Regions from separate parts of the Homo sapiens genome. Here region 1 is linked to region 2. The links come from fine-mapping of genetic effects on gene expression. A gene starts in region 2. The other region holds a variant in brackets. All regions are shown on one strand. Distances are between the middles of the regions.

Region 1 (2,500 bases), 22 kb before region 2:
CATCACCAAGTTATATCATCACCAAACCCAAGGTCATCTAGATTTTCTCCTATGTTATCTTCCAGTAGTTTTATAGTTTTGCATTTTACATTTAGGTCAATGATCCGATTTGAGTTAATTTTTGTGTAGGGTGTAGTCTGTGTCCAGATTCCTTTTTTTTTTTTCAATGTGGATGTCCAGTTGTCCCAGCACCATTTGTTGAAAAGACTATCTTTTCCTCCCTTGTGGTGCCTTTGCTCCTTTGTCAAAGATCAGTTGACTGTACATTCAGCCCTTCATATTCGTGGGTTCCACATCCATGGATTCAACTAAACATCGATCAAAAATATTAGAAATATACTGAACATGTTCCCTAAACAATGCAGTGTAACAACTTATTTATTAGGTTGGTGCAAAAGTAATTGTGGTTTTTACCTTTGAAAGTAATGGCAAAAACTGCAATTACTTTTGCACCAACCTAATACATAGCATTTATGTTGTATTGAGTATTATAAGTAATCTAGAGATGATTTTAAGTACCCAGGAGGATGTGCATAAGTAATATGCAAATACTATGCCATTTTAAATCAGAGACTTGAGCATCCGTGGGTTTTGATATCTGCAGGAGGTCCAGGAACCAATCCCCTGTGGATACCAATAGACTATTTTATTTATGTGGGATTATTTCTGGGCTGTCTATTCTGTTCCATTGGTCTATTTGTTTATTCTTTTGACATTATCACACTGTTTTAATCGTGATATTATTATTGTAGCTTAAAAATAAGTCTTGAAGTTGTATAATCTTAGTCCTCCAACTTTGTTCTCTTTCAATATTGTGTTGGCTATTCTGCCTATTGTCCCCTGCATAAATTTTAGAATTTGTTTGTTGATATTCACAAAATAACTTGCTGGGATTTTGATTGAAATTTCATTGACTATTGATCAAGTTGGGAAAAACTGACATCTTGACAATATTGAGTCTTCCTATCCTATAGAAGATCTTTCAATTTATTTAGTTCTTCTTTGATTTTTTCCATCAGAGTTTTGTAATTTTCTTCATATAGATCTTGTACTTACTTTGTTAGATTTACATCTAAGTACTTCCTGGGGAGGGGTTGCTGATGTCAATGTTATTGTGTTTTAAATTTCAAATTCCACTTGTTCATTGCTGTATGTAGATGCTCCTTGACTTACGGTGGA[G/A]TTATGTACCAATAGACCCATGTTGAAAATGTTGTAAGCCTGAAATGCAGCCCAGAGAGTCTCTGGACAAAGAATCACCAGTGGTTAAAATCTGAAACTTCATGGTTGCCAATCACTTTTGCCCCATTGTAAGTTGAACCATTGTAAGTTGGGGACCATTTGTATAGGAATGCAATTGATTTTCATATATAAACCTTGTATCCTGCAACCTTGTTATAATTGCTTATTAGCTCCAGAAGGTTTTTTATTTTCTCTTTTTTTTTGTCAGTTCTTTTGGATTTTCTACATAGATGATCATGTCATGTTTGAACAAAGATTTATTTCTTCCTTCCCAATCAGTATACCTCTTACTTTCTTGTCTTATTGCATTCATTGGGACTTTCAGTATAATGTTGAAAGGAAGGATAAGAAGGGACATCCTTGCCTTGATTTTGATCAGTATACTAGAAATTTAGCTGAACAAATACCCAGTTGTTAACTATATTTCTCAACCCACATTGTAGCTAGGTGTGGGCAATGTGACTAATTCTTGCCAATAGAATGTAAGCAAAAATAATGCCTGCCGGTTTTGGGTTTTGACTTAAAACATTGGGTATGTGTGTTATTTCTTTCTCTTCCTACTTCTAACCTGCTAGATATGTTAATAATGGATGCAACCTTGAAAGTTAGGTATGACTGGCAGACACAGTTGCTTAGCCAGCCAATGTTTCTGCATGACTTCACAGAGCAGAGCTGCCCTACTATGGAAATTACTGGATTATTCCACAAAACAGAAATAAACTTCTATTTTATTTAAGTCATTGCATTTTGAGGTATCTGTTATAGCAGCTTAGCCTTTAACTATGACAGCATCTTAATCACACCATATCCAAAATTTGCTAGTCATCTTTCCACCTATATATTGTATGCCATAATGCCAGTCTGAGTAAAGGCCCCTGTAGTCATCTAATCTTCATTCTGCTCTCAACCCCAACATCCAGTTTTCCCAAGTGCAGTGCTACCTCTTAAAATGACTCAGGATTTCTACTTCTGGCTGTGATGGAGTAATTGGCACTGGACTAGTCCTCTTGCTACAAATAACTGTAAAACCAGACAAAAATACATGAGATAGCTGTTTTCAGGCAATGAATAACAGGAAGTACAAGATAAGTACAAGATTGAGATCTTTGAGAGAAAGGAAACTAACAGGGTAGGCTCCATGATTACTCAGCTGTCTGCATAGGACAGTTTCCTGACTGCAGTGCAAAAAGCTTGAGTCCAAGCAAAGCGTGGTGGTTCCTATGAGATTCAGCCATAATGCTGCATGTATCCATAGTTCTTT
Region 2 (2,500 bases):
AGGAAGTGAGAATGAGGGTTTAACTTTTCACAATGAACAGGCAGTGCTTTTTTAAAAACAACTTTATTGAAGTATGATTGGACATAAAATAAATCGCACATACTTAGTGTCCAACCTGGTAAGTTTTGATATTGTATACATCTGTGAAACCATCATCACAATCAAGATATTATCCATCATCCCCCTAAACTTCGTGTCTCTTTGTAATCCCTCTTTTCTGCCTCTTTCTGACCCCACTCCTATCCGCTAGCAACCGCCCATGTACTCTCTGTCACTATGTATTAGTTTGCATTTTCCAGAATGTTATGTAAATGGAATCATACGGTTCTGGCTTCTTTCACTTGGCAGAATTATTTTGAGATTCATCCATGCTGTTGCATTTATCAATAGTTTACTTTTTTATTGCTCAGTACTATTCCTTCGTATGGATCAATCACGACTGGTTTATCCATTCACTTGTTGATAGACATTTGGATTGTTTCCAGTTTATGGCTATTACAAATAGAGCTGCTATGAACATTTGTGTACAAGTCTTTGTAAGAACATATGCTTTTTTCCCTCTTGGGTAAATAGCTAGGAATGGAAGGCTGGCTTTGTTTAGCATTTTAAGAAATTGTCAAAATGTTTTCAAAGCTGCCGAACCATTTTATGATTCCACCAGAGACAGGAGTATGGGGCTGAGGTAACAAATGGTCCCCTTCACCATCCTCGGATGAGTTAATGACAGTAACCATCAGCTCACCGTATAGGCCTAATCAGGAACTGTCCGTGCTAAAATGTGTCTAGTTCTCTTTAGTCAGATTCCTTTGAGAGTGTGATTAAGCTCACGGTCAGTGTGGCGTGTAGGACGGGACACACATGGACAAATGCTAGGCAGGAATCGCCCACGCTGGAAAGGGCGATGGCCTGAAAAAAAACGACCGCAGTTGGGATGGAAAGGGGAGGGTTGAAGTTCAGACATATTGAAGTTAGAATGGTTGGGACTTGGTAAGAGGGGAGAGAGGACGATGCCTAGGGTTTAGTGACCAGGTGATGGTGGTGCAAGCAGAGGGGAGGAGTGGGTTGGCGGGAGGAAAAAGAGGTTATTTTTGGTTTGTCACCTGTGAGTTGCCTACTGGACACAAAGATGAAGCTGTCGGGAAAGTGATGCTAAGTGTACACGTCTGCGTGGAGATCCAGACTTCTGGTGCAACATCTAGGTTTAGGTGAAGTATTAGAAGCAGTTGTAGCCAACAAATTCGTATCTTTCAGAGCAATCATTTCTACACCTTACGAAAAGCACCGAATCCGTGGTCTCCCCCACACAGACATGACCAGAACATGTGCGATGACGTCAGCCTTTTTGACTAGTCTCCCACTCACTCGATTCTGCGCAGGCGTATGGCGCATGCGCAACATCCCCTAGTGCCGCCGCTCCCTACTCTGGGGGTTGGGACTACCTCCTTTTCCGCGGGCCCCGCCCAGGCGGCTGCCCGTGACCTGCCTGGGCGCGGGGAACTGAAAGCCGGAAGGGGCAAGACGGGTTCAGTTCGTCATGGGGCTGTTTGGAAAGACCCAGGAGAAGCCGCCCAAAGAACTGGTAAGGGCTACGGCGGCGGCAGATAAGCGGGTGGATCTGTGTGGGGCGTAGTGAAGTTGGTAAATGACAGGACACTCTTCTCCCCACCGCCTGCCCGATACCGCCCGGCCCCCATTTCCGGGGACTCCCACTCGACAGGGGGGCCGGAGGAAGAGTCTTTAGGAGTCGGCTGTGGGACGCGAGAGCTCCTGGTGCCATGGCTCTCGAACAGGTAGCCGAGGGTGGATGAAGAGTTTCTCCACCTCGCCACTGAGCGCGTAGGCAGCGACACCGTCCTGGCCTCGGAAACCTCTTCCCCCTGCGCGCGTTGGTACGACCCGCCCGGAACCTTTTCCCAGCGTAGGCCCCACCCCTCCAGCCCGGCTGCGGACCACCCGGAGAACCTTCTCCTGCCCGAAGCGTTGTTTGGAGCGGGCCGGGTCGCGTCTGCCGGAGGAGCCGTCTGTTCTCCGTCCTCCCTGTTGTGTTGAAAAAGAGGCTCAGTTTCCTCTTTCCCCAGCCCTTGTGTTGACCCTAGGCACATACCGTAGCGGGGCAGGGACTCGACCCAGAAGAATGTTACAGAAGATAGCTCTGGACCCGGCTTCGAACTCTCGTTACCTATTAATTGAGATAATATTGGGAGGCAAACAGTTGAAAATGCCCTGCAGTCAGTCAACCTAAGTTTGAATCCTGCCTTCCCACATCTCAGCTCTGTGATCTCTGGAAAGTTCACTTCTCAGTGCCTTCTCGACTGTGAAGCCAGAATAATAGTAGTGTCACCTCAGAGTAATTGAAGATTCAGGGATGTAAAGTTTTCATATTGGTAGTTAGGGCTAATTCTTTAAATACGGCACAGCTTTGCTACTCAAATGCCAACCAGCAGCATCAACATCACCTGGGAGCTTGTTAAATCTCGGACACCACTCCAGACCCACTGAG

Evidence for each region. PIP is the estimated chance that this variant, and not a neighbour inherited with it, causes the effect.
Region 1: its variant is the best candidate, but not a certain one, in a credible set for the expression of CHMP3 in sun-exposed skin (GTEx, PIP 0.61).

Annotation. Positions count from the first base shown.
Region 1 is chr2:86,584,106-86,586,605 of GRCh38, reverse strand. All of the region lies in intron 3 of RNF103-CHMP3 (RNF103-CHMP3 readthrough), which reads left to right. All of the region lies in intron 5 of CHMP3-AS1 (CHMP3 and RNF103 antisense RNA 1), which reads right to left. Among named protein-coding and RNA genes, the nearest start is that of CHMP3, 22 kb to the right of the region's middle. The variant G/A (reference allele first, on the strand shown) is at 1,180.
Region 2 is chr2:86,562,383-86,564,882 of GRCh38, reverse strand. CHMP3 (charged multivesicular body protein 3) reads left to right here and starts at 1,440. Exons shown (of 6, transcript NM_016079.4): 1 at 1,440-1,579. The coding sequence starts at 1,535. The region is part of intron 3 of RNF103-CHMP3 (RNF103-CHMP3 readthrough); the gene reads left to right. CHMP3-AS1 (CHMP3 and RNF103 antisense RNA 1) reads right to left here. Exons shown (of 6, transcript NR_183901.1): 2 at 1,963-2,037; 3 at 1,484-1,615; 4 at 1,101-1,195; 5 at 743-906. RefSeq lists enhancers at 1,065-1,124, 1,283-1,577, 1,735-1,834, 1,845-2,014.